Regions from separate parts of the Homo sapiens genome. Here all the other regions are linked to region 1. The links come from fine-mapping of genetic effects on gene expression. A gene starts in region 1. Each other region holds a variant in brackets. All regions are shown on one strand. Distances are from middle to middle. Region 1 holds the start of CTSK (cathepsin K). Region 2 overlaps CTSS (cathepsin S). Region 3 overlaps SETDB1 (SET domain bifurcated histone lysine methyltransferase 1).

Region 1 (4,241 bases):
TTAATGAGAAGATATATTAAATGTAGTCATAGGGGACTGAGGAGCAAGGGTGGCCTTGAAGAGGCCAAAGGAATGTCCATTTGCTGAGTTTCCCTTCCTTATGTCTCCAGTCTGGTGCCAGGTAGTGGAGTAAAAAAGGAGACAGTTTATTTTTTTATTCTATGTGCACACTTACAGTATACATATATATTTATATCACAATTTACGAAACCAAAAAGTTGAGTTTCCAATGGAACCCTTGTTTTTTAATAATCGACTTTTTAAATGTGATCAGGACTATAATATTGTACAGTTATTATAGGGCTTTTGGGGAAGGGGAGGATAGCGAGAAGATGCTCTGGGGGTTTTGTTTTTGCTTTTCCTTCAGGGTTTTATTTTTGACTGTTTTGTTTTCTTGTTGGCCATTTCTGTATTGCTGGCATCTGTGCTAAGCTTTACAGTGGCAAAAATAATGACATGTAGCAAAGATTTTCAAACAAAATATTTTTTCCTTTTGTAAAATTTCTTGTGTTGTGTGATCTTGATTGCGGCTTTATCATTCCTTTCCAGTTCATAAACAACAGGCACCCACAACCAGAGGAATCTATAGTTTAAGCTCCAGACATACAAACATAAGGCACATTGTGTCTTTAATTTCAGGAATCAGAAATCATAGGGTTCTGATCACATTGCACGCCTCCCCCCTCACTTGTCCTCCTGATCCTGACACATTCTGAGTAACATCAGCAGGAATGCTCTGACCATGAGGTGGGGGTTTTGGGGTGGGCGTTGCCTGGGTTCTTGGGAGAGAGGGGAAGAGTCGGGACTTGAAAACCACTAGGGCACATCTGGATGCCTTCCCCCAGTATGTCCTTTTCTGGATTAAAATGAGTGAAATTTAAACTGTTCAAGTCTGGACCTGGTTTCCCTCTAGGAGACTATGTTGGTTCATTAGCAACTTTTTTTTTTTTTTTTTTTTTTGTGTGTGTGTGTGTGTGTGTGTGTGAGAGATGGAGTCTCGCTCTGTTACCCAGGCTGGAGTGCAGTGGCACGATCTTGGCTCACTGCAACCTCTGCCCCTTGGGTTCAAGCAATTCTCCTGCCTCAGCTTCCCAAGTAGCTGGCACTACAGGTGTGTGCCACCATGCCCAGCTAATTTTTGTGTTTTTTTTTTTTAGTAGAGATGGGGTTTCACTATATGTTGGCCAGGCTAGTCTCGAACTCCTGACCTTAGGTGATCCACATGCTTTGGCCTCCCAAAGGCCTGGGATTACAGGCGTGAACCACTGCGCCTAGCCTGTTAGCAGCTCTTAAAATCCAGAGGCATAAGCCTGTATTTTTGAGGGTTTATGCATGGAATCCAGCTAGAAACTGAGTCTATTACAGATCCCATTTATTATCCTTTCTATTCCAAGAAGCCTTTTTTTCTCCTTCCCCACATCTGTTTATGGAAGAAAATGAAGTTTGGGGTGTGGTTTGAGGAATCAGCTAGATTCTTATGATCTGTCACATGCTTGGATGTTGGGGAAGCATTTGGAGAAGCTCATGTGACTTGTCCTAGATTGGGGATTTTAATTGAGACAGATGATGTTTATCGGGCATCCCACCACCTGAGAGTTTTAGCAACAGAGTCACATGTGAGTCCATCAGAACTTACGGCATTGATTCAAGTGCTGTCATAAATAACCAGGACTGCTGTTTTTGGTTACTTTTAAAGACAGTTTCATCTGGACTTTCTGGGCATATCCTCCTTCAGCAAAACCACATTAGGCTGGGAAAACTATTCTGCCTGGAAGTAATGACAACTTGCAACCAACAAGCTTATAAAAATACAAAGAATTCTGGAGCCTATGGCTTCCATTACATTATTCTTTTATAGCCTTTTATGTTCATTACCGCATCCCAGAGGTGAGAGTCAGACACAAATATGAAAATAGGTTTCAATGTTGGAGAGGTAAATCCTAACAGGAAAGGGGTAGGAAAAGATATAATCCCCCAATATTAAAATAAAGATATTGAAGAAGAAGGATGGGAGAGACTAGGGCTGTGTCCTTCCTTTTACTCACCAAAAGAGAAAGTAAGCTCCTATTTGAGTCAATAGATATTGAGGTCTTGTTATTTGCCACCAAAGACAGTCTTGTGAGACTAAATAGCTAGTAATTCCCTACCCTGGCACACATGCTGCATACACACAGAAACACTGCAAATCCACTGCCTCCTTCCCTCCTCCCTACCCTTCCTTCTCTCAGCATTTCTATCCCCGCCTCCTCCTCTTACCCAAATTTTCCAGCCGATCACTGGAGCTGACTTCCGCAATCCCGATGGAATAAATCTAGCACCCCTGATGGTGTGCCCACACTTTGCTGCCGAAACGAAGCCAGACAACAGATTTCCATCAGCAGGTAACGTTTGCAACTTCCTAGATCTTTTAGCTTTTCATTCCTGTCAATTCTCTGAGTATTAGGGATGTAGTGACTTGAGGATCACAATAAACTTTTAGCCTCTGCAGATGAAAACAGAGATGCACTTCTTAGGTCATTCCCTGGCTAAATAAAATCTGCCTGGAAATCTGTAGAATTCCTTGTATGATTTATATATATACATACATGATTGTTAGTAAAAGCAAAGTATATAGGGAATCATTTCCCCATCCTTCAAGAGTGGCCTTTCTGCAGTGTTTTCTACTTTGGCCAACAAGGATCAAAACGGTTAACTCCTTAGTGAGGAGGAGGAGAGTGGTATGGGGAGGTAGTAGCTCAGTGCTTCCTGTTCACTGAGACATCTCAAAGCCCTTAACACTCTAGTTTTTAAATGTCCTACTGGACATTTTGCCAGTTTGCAAAATTACATGTAAATGGACTATAAGCAATTGTGTAAGCCATATGTCATGCTGCAGGCTGCAAATTGTTCTTAAAATGGAGGATTTGTAATTAAGAAAGCCAATGCAAGAAATGAGTGAAGCTAACTAGAGTAAACTTATGAAAAGCTGTGAATTTCATCATCATAGAACATTGCTTTTCAGTCTGAACATTCTTCTAACAAACCTTGGATCTGAGGCTTCTTGTCCTTTGCGGCAGCCACAGTGGGTTTTTGTTGTTAGGGGAAAAATAAAAAACCTTGCCCGCAGCATCTGGTTAAGATTAGGGCAGTTTCCTGCCTAAGGAGGGAAGGGAGAGAAAAAGGAAGAAGAAATGCATAAGGAGAATGAGGAGATATACAATGTCTCAGAAAACAGGAAACATTGTCCTATTTTCCCTTGTCCTCTTCTGACAAGATCTGGGAAAGTACCAGAATTTAGGCACGAAAGAGAAGAACGCCTCGAAGAAATGATCAGGAGGCAAAACTTAGACGGAAATCTCTCCTTTGTGTATTCTGAACCCCACTACCACCTTGCTATTTGTCTGTCTCCAAGCCTGCTAGGGACCCTGGAGGAAACGCACTGAGCCCATTCTGATTGTCCAGTTTCTATCCCCCATTTCTGGTTGTGTACGTGTGTGTGTGTGTGTGTGTGTGTGTGTGTGTGTGTGTGTGTGTGAGAGAGAGAGAGACAGAGAGAGAAACAGAGAGAGTGTGTGTTGCCTAAATCTCCCGAGAGAGAGAGAGAGAGAGAAAGAGAGAAATGGCTAAATCCCCCTAGATCAAAGTCCTTGGAACCAGATGTACCAGCATCCTATCTAAACACAGGCCCCTCCTGACTATCATTGTTTTATCACCCTTTTTCCGTCTACCTTTCTCTTCCTCATAAAGCCTAGTTTTCCTCTGTTTCCCTGCCAAATGGAAGAGTTTTCCCTAACTACATTCTTCTGCAGGATGTGGGGGCTCAAGGTTCTGCTGCTACCTGTGGTGAGCTTTGCTCTGTACCCTGAGGAGATACTGGACACCCACTGGGAGCTATGGAAGAAGACCCACAGGAAGCAATATAACAACAAGGTGCCTGGGGTCCTGGAGGGGGCATGGCAGGAAGGCTGAGACCTGAGCTCTCTCATCTTAGCTTCCAGACTCCCTTCTTCAATCCAAATGCTTTATTCCAAGCAAATCAGTCCCTCTTCCCTAACTCATGTTAACATACGGTTTTCATTCCTATGCTTCAAATCATCCTCTGTCAAACTGTATCCTTCCTTTGCTTTATAAGTGTGTTACATTTCTCTTTTGGGAAGAGTTCTAAGATTAATGCTGTTAATCTATAAGCAATTTTTCTGTCTCTCCAGAGCTTTGTGTTGTATTTGTTTACATATTATCTCTTCTTGCAGGCTCTTAATTCC
Region 2 (4,241 bases), 57 kb after region 1:
TTGTTTGAGACAGGGTCTCCCTCTGTTGCCCAGGCTGGACTGCAGTGGTGCGATCTGGGCTCACTGCAACCTCTGCCTCTTGGGCTCAAGTGATCCTCCCATCTCAGCCTACACGGTGACTACAGGCACACACCACCACTTTTTTTTTCTTTGTATTTTTAGCAGAGATGGGTTTTGCCATGTTGCCCAAGCTGATCTCAAGCTCCTGAGCTCAAGTGATCCTCCTACCTCCACCTCCCAAAGTCCTGGGATTATAGGCATGAGCCCTCGTGTTCAGCCCCCACAGTGCTTTTCTAAGTGATCATAGAGCCACCTACTTAGACAAACACTGAACTAAGCAAATAGGTGTTTAACACAGACTTTTATTGCTCACGCTATGCATTGACTGCACTGGACTCTCCAATAAGCCAATTGCTTGAGAAGCAGTGTTGTGTGAGAGAGCCCTGGTGATCAGGAAGTTTCTCCATTTCACTTGTGAGTTTCAAAGTTGAAGGAGAAGAAAGAACTAGAGATAGAGTGTTCTATAAATTGAGCCACTCAAGTTAATTCATGGCTAGTCTTGCATCGTTAGAATATGAAATATGTGCCTTGTAAAATTATTGTTCCTATGCTGTTGTATTTTCCTTTAGTTTGCTTGTTTTAAAAAAATTGCAAAAATCCTAAATTAGTTAGAGGTAAAACACATGTATCACCATAGAGGTCAGGGTAAGTGAGAGGAATCAAAGCATTCTGAGCAGCTACCCCAGGTTGTGATCAATGAAGAAAGTAAAAATTTATTAGGAAGTAAATGGTGGCCAGGCACAGTGGCTCACATCTGTGATTCCAGCACTTTGGGAGGCAGAGGCAGAAGGATCGCTTGAGCCCAGGAGTTAGAAACCAACCTAGGCAATATAGTGAGGCCCTGACTCTACAAAAAATAAAAATAAAAATTAGCCAGGCATGGTGCGCTCCTGTAGTCCCAGCTACTTGAGGGGCTGAGATGGGAGGATCGCTTGAGCCTGGGAGGTTGAGGCTACAGTGAGCCATGATCACACCACTGCACTTCAGTCTGAGTGACAGAAGGAAACCCTGTCTCAAAACAAACAAACAAAAAGAAGTAAATGGTACTGCTAATCTCTTATTCTTTTCCACCTACATATTTTTCTTTCAATTAGTTTTGGATTTCTTACCCGAGGTTCTCTAAAATAACAGCTTTTAGAAGACCCAATAAACCACATATTTAGATGTTAACTCTGAGTAAGTTAATGAGCTCCTTTCTCTGGGTGCTTGCATTTTAATGAACAATTTTGCTTCAATCAAAAGCAATGTCAGTTTGCTTCCTTTTGGTGGAGAGCAAGGTGGGAGGAGGGAAGGAGAGAGAAAGAGAACAATTATGATGGGGCTCTGGACACTCTGCCCCTTTTAAAACTAAAGCAGCTTTGCCTTTTTTTGTTTGTTTATGCCTCCTTGTAAAATATTTTTTAATCAAAAAAATTCTGAAGATAACAAAGGTTTGAAAAATGCCAACCTAGGATTAAACTTCTTATGTTTCAGGCATCATATGACAGGAGAAAGGGTATTTTAGGTCAAGGAAATCATCCTAGCTCTCTCAAAATCTCATTACTGTAGGCAACTATCTCCCTTACTTATGGGTGAAAATAGGTGCAATTTGGTACATGCTCAGTGAGTATTGTTTCTAAGTATATTTGAATATGGCCATTATGTTCTGAGCTTGGCTGATTGCAAATCTCTATCAAGGTTGGACCTTGCCTAGATAACAATTGAGTTAAATTTAGTCTTCATTCCCATTGTTAAAGACAGAAGGAAACTGTAGTGGGGGAGCTCTTTCTGGGAACTAGGGACAGAACTGATGTAGCTGAGCGTTGTCCAGTTTGGGTTATGGAAGTCATTC[C/T]GAATGATTTTCTGTGATTTGCGTTTGTGACCTTGTATCTGTTTTAGGGTTCTTGTGGTGCTTGCTGGGCTTTCAGTGCTGTGGGGGCCCTGGAAGCACAGCTGAAGCTGAAAACAGGAAAGCTGGTGTCTCTCAGTGCCCAGAACCTGGTGGATTGCTCAACTGAAAAATATGGAAACAAAGGCTGCAATGGTGGCTTCATGACAACGGCTTTCCAGTACATCATTGATAACAAGGGCATCGACTCAGACGCTTCCTATCCCTACAAAGCCATGGTGCGTCTTAAGCAAACTTTTTGTGCTGCCCCATGATCTCATGTTATCCACTGACTGACTGTGCTGGGCTTGCCACCATGCCAATTGCTTGAGAAGCAGTATTGTGTGTGAGAGAGAACCCTGAAGAGGAATTCTTAAATTCTCAAGAGTTCTGTTTCTGATGAAGTACTCTTCTTAATATATCAGTAGTACAAATAAGGAAGTAGCATTCATGCTTAAAAACAGATTTTAATGACTGGGCGTAGTGGCTCATACCTATAATCTCAGCACTTTGGAAGGCCGAGGTGGGTGGATCACCTGAGGTCAGGAGTTTGAGACCAGCCTGGCCAACGTGGTGAAACCCTGTCTCTACCAAAAATACAAAAATTAGCCAGGCATGGTGGTGCATGCCTGTGGTCCCAGCTACTCGGGAGGCTGAAGCAGGAGAATCGCTTGAACTCAGGAGGTGGAGGTGCAGTGAGCCGAGATCACGCCACTGTACTCCAGCCTCGGCAACGGAGCAAGACTCCATCCCAAAATTAAACAGATTTTAAGCAAACTATCCTTAAAATTATTTCTCTGTATTTAAACTTTTTCTTCTGCAGCCTCCCATGCTCAACCTTATTCTCAGATCATTAACCACATCATTCTTCCACCCACTGAGAAGCTAAATAACACTCTCCTCTTCCTCAGAAATTCATTATACATTTTGATATAACGATAACCTAAGGATTGTGTCCATGTTACAGAAGATTTTAAAAATATAAAAATATCACTCAAAAACCTTCTACCTTAACCACTATTGTTTTGGTTTATTTCTTTCAAGTTATTTTCTTGTTAAGCACTTAAAAAACATAGTTGGCCAAGTGTGGTGGCTCACACCTGTAATGTCAGCACTTTGGGAGGTCGAGGTGGGAGGATTGCTTGAGCTCAAGAGTTTGAGACCAGCCTGTGCAACATAGTGAGACCTCACCTCTACTAAAAATCAAAAAAATTAGCCAGGCATGGTGGTGCACACCTGAGTAGCAGTTCCAGCTACTCAGGAAGCTGAGGTGGGAGAATCACTTGGCCCAGGAGTTGGAGGCTGCAGTGAGCCATGATTATGCTACTGCACTCCAGCCTGGACAATGGAGTGAGAGCCTATCTCAAAAAAATAAATAATATAAATAAATACAAAATAGTTGTATATACAACAAACATGAATTTGTAACTTTCCTTTTCCCACTTGAAATACTTGTGTTTCCCATATTATATGGTCTTTATATACCATCATTTTAGCTGCAGATCATCTTGCAGGCATCAAAAAGATTTTAAAGCTCTCATCTAGAGTTTATTATCTCTATGTAATATTTCCCTACAGTCCACCTGAAAGTCTGAGGGGCCATTGTCCTGGCAAGTTTTGCATGTATGAGGATGTTCACAATTTGAAAGAATAGAATAGTTCTGTATTTCCTCCATTATTGCTGAAACCCGGGACTGTTAGGATTTGGAAGATTTGCAAAGGAAGGAGCCTTAGACACATGAAAAAGTTAAAGAAAGGAAGGGAGACATTTAAAATCCAGGCTTAGGATACAGGTGATTTATACAGGAGTTGAAGTATACTTCATCATATTTATACTTCTTTTTGCAGGATCAGAAATGTCAATATGACTCAAAATATCGTGCTGCCACATGTTCAAAGTACACTGAACTTCCTTATGGCAGAGAAGATGTCCTGAAAGAAGCTGTGGCCAATAAAGGCCCAGTGTCTGTTGGTGTAGATGCGCGTCATCCTTCTTTCTTCCTCTACAGAAGTGGTAAAAAATAAAATAAACAATAATTAGAATTTAAAGAAAGAAAGAAAGGATATTGGCTGAGCACGGTGGTTCATGCCTGTAATTCTAGCTTTGGAGGCTGAGGTGGGAGGATTGCTTGAGCCTGGGAGTTTGACACCAGCCTGAGCAACATCGCGAGACCCTTATCTCTACGAAAAATAAAAATAAAAATTAGCCGGATATGGTGACACTCACTTGTAGTCTCAGCTACTTGGGAGGGTGAGGCAGGAGGACTCCTTGAACCCAGGAATTTGAGGTTACAGTGAGCTATGATCATACCAC
Region 3 (4,241 bases), 140 kb before region 1:
CTCCCTGGTTACTCTTCACTGACTGATAACATCTCTATTTCTCTTTTTTTTTTTGAGACAAGTTTCGCTCTTTTTGCCTAGGCTGGAGTACAATGGCACGATCTTGGCTCACCACAACCTCTGCCTCCTGGGTTCAAGCGATTCTCCTGCCTCAGCGTCCTGAGTAGCTGGGATTACAGGCATGCGCCACCACGCCTGGCTAATTTTGTATTTTTTAGTAGAGACAGGGTTTCTCCATGTTGGCCAGGCTGGTCTCGAACTCCCGACCTCAGGTGATCCACCCGCCTCGGCCTCCCAAAGTGCTGGGATTACAGGCATGAGCCACCGCGCCCGGCCTAACATCTCTATTTCAACAGTATACCTTTTCCTAAAATGTATTTGCCTGTGAATTATGGAAGTAGAATCCAGTCTTCTACCAATGTTTTTTTGGTCTGCTGCGTGTTCTAAAAATGTCCTTACTAACTCCAAGGAAAGAGGCTGTGGTGTTTCCTTTCTATTTTAGCAATGATGGCACCATGTTCAACAAGAAGTTTTAACAAATGGCTTTCAGATGATACCATATTTCCAAGCACCCAGCTTCCAATTCAATTATTCTTACTTTCTATTTCTTAGGAACTTCTATGGGTAAAGCTTCCTTTTCAAGTCCAAACTCCTCACTATCATAAGCTTAAACTAAGCCCTTCGCTTACAGCCAAGGAACCTTCCCCTACACAGTGACCACTCATTGCTATCCTGCCTACAGAGAGCCTCAGATTTTCTCACCTATATGTCTGGTTGATCCCAGGTTTCCCACCAGAGACATTTTCACTGAGTGCAGGAGATGTAGGGGAGGAATGACCAGAGCCCACAGATCCTGGTCGAAAGGACGTGCTCTTTTTGGCTACCTGCTTCCGTGACTGGGCAAGCTGGCTTTCCAAGCTTCTAGGAGATTAGAGAAGAGGGCATATAGTAAGGGATGTGGAAAATATAATATGAAAGAAACTGAAGAAAAAGAAAGAATAACACTCACTCACTGTCACCTGCTTGGGGGGATAGAGGTGGAGCAGGTGGGAAAGGTGGGGCAGGTGGAGCTGTAGGCTGTGGGGGTTCCACTGGCTTGAACTGGGTTCCAGTACCGGTCAGATCCTGTGTGTACTGGACAACAGGGCCTTTGCTCCTCACAGCACCTATAGGAAAAAGGAAATTGAGCACTGAGAAGATGATAGCTATGACGCTTGTATTCAGTCACACATCTGATCCTTAACTTATACAATATAAAAAGGAAGCAATGGCTGGGCGCAGTGGCTCTTGCCTGTAATCCCAGCAGTTTGGGAGGCCGAAGTGGGCAGGTTGCTTGAGGTCATGAGTTTGAGACCAGCCTGGCCAACATGGTGAAACCCCGTCTCTACTAAAAATACAAAAATTAGATGGGCATGGTGGTGCACATCTGTAATTCCAGCTGCTCGGAAGGCGCAGGACAATCACTTGAAACCAGGAGGTGGAGGTTGCAGTGAGCCGAGATCACATCACTGTACTCCAGCCTGGGCAACAGAACAAGACTTCGTCTCAAAAAAAAAAAGCAGCAATGGACACATTTTGAGTAAGTGCTTAGACTCTCAGTTCCCATTATTGACTGGCATGGACGCTGGCATACATTGTTTTTTGACTTAGATAATACTTTTTCTTTTATTAAAGTGAAAGCAAGTTTATTCACAAAGTAAAGGAATAAAAGAATAACGGCCAGGCGCGGTGGCTCATGCCTTTAATCCCAGCACTTTGGGAGGCTGAGGCGGGCAGATCACCTGAGGTCAGGAGTTCAAGACCAGCCTGGCCAACATGGAGAAATCCCGTCTCTACTAACAATACAAAAATTAGCCTGGCATGGTAGCAGTCGCCTGTAACCCCAGTTACTCGGAAGGCTGAGGCAGGAGAATTGCTGGAACCCGGGAGGCGGAGGTTGCAGTGAGCTGAGATGGTGCCACTGCACTCCAGCCTGGGCAAAAGAACCAGACTCCATCTCAAAAAAAAAAAAAAAAAATTGCTACTCTGTCGGCAGAGTAGCCTCTTTTTTTTCTTTTTATAGACAGTGTTCCACTTTGTTACTCAGGCTGAAGTGCAGCGGTGTGACCTTAGCTCATTGTAACCTTGAAATCCTGGGCTTCAAGCAATCCTCCTGCCTCAGCCTCCAGAGTAGCTAAG[G/T]CTACAGGTGCACACCACCACACTCAGCATTTTTTTTTTTTAAGAGATAAGAGTCTTTCTATGTTGCCCAGACTGATCTCCAACTCCTGGCCTCAAGTGATACTCCCACCTCAGCCTCCCAAAGTGCTGAGACTACAGACACGAGCCACCATGCTGGGCCTTAGATAAGACTTTATATCTTCCTATCTCAGATGATTTACCTAATTATGTTATACTTTGGGGAAATATTTTCAGAAATATATTCTTTAACCAACTAATTTTGGCAGGAAAAATCAACCAGAAAGTATGACAGTAATATTAAAAAAGAAAACCAAATCTGTTTTTTGTTTGTTTCTGAGACAGGGTCTCGTTCTGTCACCCAGGCTGGAGTGCAGTGGCACGATCTAGCTCACTGCAACCTCGACCTCCTGGCTTCAATTGATCCTCCCACCTCAACTTCTTGAGTAGCCTGGACTACAGCTTAATGCCACTGTACCCAGCTAATTTTTGTGTTTTTTTGTAGAAACAGGGTTTCACCATGTTGCCCAGGCTGGTCTTGAATTCCTCAGCTCAAGCAAACCACCTACCTGTCTCAGCTTCCTAAAGTGTTGGGATTATAGATGTCAGCCACTGTGCCTGGCCAGGTCTGGGTTTTAAAGAAAACTGACTATACGCTGGATGTGGTAGCTCATACTTGTAATCCTAGCACTTTGGGCAGCCGAGGCAGGTAGACAGCTTGAGCCCAGGAGTTCAAGACCAGCCTGGGTAACATATCAAGCCCCGGGTCTATTTAAAAAAAAAAGAAAAAGAAAAAACTAACCATAGATAACACACAAAACTGACAATTCTCATGTGGATAACAGAGGGTAACTACTATCACCCTAACCTAAAGCCAACTGTTTCAGATTTTTATGTGGTTGTTTAGAACAAATTAGAGCCACAGCATGTGGAAGCAGCAGCACAAATTGATCACCATGATTGGAAACAACTCAGGGCACATATCCTGTTTCCAATGAGTATACAGTGTAACCATGCTAATCAAAGGATAGCCATTGTATATAATCTCCTTTGCTGGTTGGCCTGTTTCTTCCTTCCTCCAGGAATCTTTCAGGACATACCCATATTTGGACGTGTCCTGAGCTGTCCTTGCTTCTTCTCCAGTGCAGAGGCTGAGGATGTTTTCATGCTGAACATGGGCTCCAGCCGTGTAGAGCCTCGATAGATCCACTCACATCTTTTGTCATCCTGGGGAATTGAGAGAAAAGAATGAAGGGAAATAGCTTAAAGGCTAGAATCTATCCTGTCCTGTGTAGAGGATATATACCATGTGTCACCTCTGGGAATCCTCCCTGATGAGCCTTAAATTCCTTAGTCTAAGCTAAGCACAGTGGCTCACGCCTGTAGCTTGTAATCCCAGCACTTTGGGAGGCTGAGGCAGGTGGATCACCCGAGGTTGGGAGTTCAAGACCAGCCTGACCAACATGGAGAAACCCCGTCTCTACTAAAAATACAAAATTAGCCGGGTGTGGTGGCGCATGCCTGTAATCCCAGTTACTCGGGAGGCTGAGGCAGGAGAATTGCTTGAACCAGGGAGGCGGAGGTTGTGGTGAGCCGAGACTGCACCATCGTACTCCAGCCTGGGCAACAGGAGCGAAACTCCATCCCCCCCAAAAAAAAATTCCTTATCTACTTAATAAAGTATGTGCCAGGATCCATGATGGGTATCAGGAACACAACAATGAAAAATATATACTCCTTGTTTAAGGAATTACAGGAGCAACAGATATCTATACTGAGTATAAGAGGTATGACAGCTGGGCACAATAGCTCACACCTATAATCCTGGTATGTCGAAAGGATGAGGCAGACAGACTGCTTGAGCTCAGGAGTTCGAGACCAGCCTGGGCAACATGGCGAAACCCGTCTCTACTAAAAATACAAAAATCAGCCAGGTGTGGTGGCATGCACTTGTAGTCACAGCTACTTGGGAGGCTGATGTGGGAGGACCACTTGAACCCTGGAGGTTGAGGCTGCAGTGAGCTGTGATTGCACCACTGCACTCCAGCCTGGGTGGCAGAGTGAGA

What was found. PIP is the estimated chance that this variant, and not a neighbour inherited with it, causes the effect.
Region 2: its variant is the best candidate, but not a certain one, in a credible set for the expression of CTSK in whole blood (TOPMed, PIP 0.69).
Region 3: its variant is the best candidate, but not a certain one, in a credible set for the expression of CTSK in whole blood (INTERVAL, PIP 0.76).

The regions. Positions count from the first base shown.
Region 1 is chr1:150,806,354-150,810,594 of GRCh38, reverse strand. It overlaps CTSK (cathepsin K), which reads left to right and starts at 2,335. Exons shown (of 8, transcript NM_000396.4): 1 at 2,335-2,381; 2 at 3,789-3,909. The coding sequence starts at 3,790. It overlaps ARNT (aryl hydrocarbon receptor nuclear translocator), which reads left to right. Exons shown (of 22, transcript NM_001668.4): 22 at 1-882.
Region 2 is chr1:150,749,706-150,753,946 of GRCh38, reverse strand. CTSS (cathepsin S) reads left to right here. Exons shown (of 8, transcript NM_004079.5): 5 at 1,939-2,166; 6 at 3,776-3,941. Among named protein-coding and RNA genes, the nearest start is that of CTSS, 14 kb to the left of the region's middle. RefSeq lists an enhancer at 4,191-4,241. The variant C/T (reference allele first, on the strand shown) is at 1,892.
Region 3 is chr1:150,946,047-150,950,287 of GRCh38, reverse strand. SETDB1 (SET domain bifurcated histone lysine methyltransferase 1) reads right to left here. Exons shown (of 22, transcript NM_001366418.1): 10 at 3,276-3,402; 11 at 1,010-1,166; 12 at 763-921. Among named protein-coding and RNA genes, the nearest start is that of SETDB1, 22 kb to the right of the region's middle. RefSeq lists a cis regulatory region at 252 and an enhancer at 180-324. The variant G/T (reference allele first, on the strand shown) is at 2,179.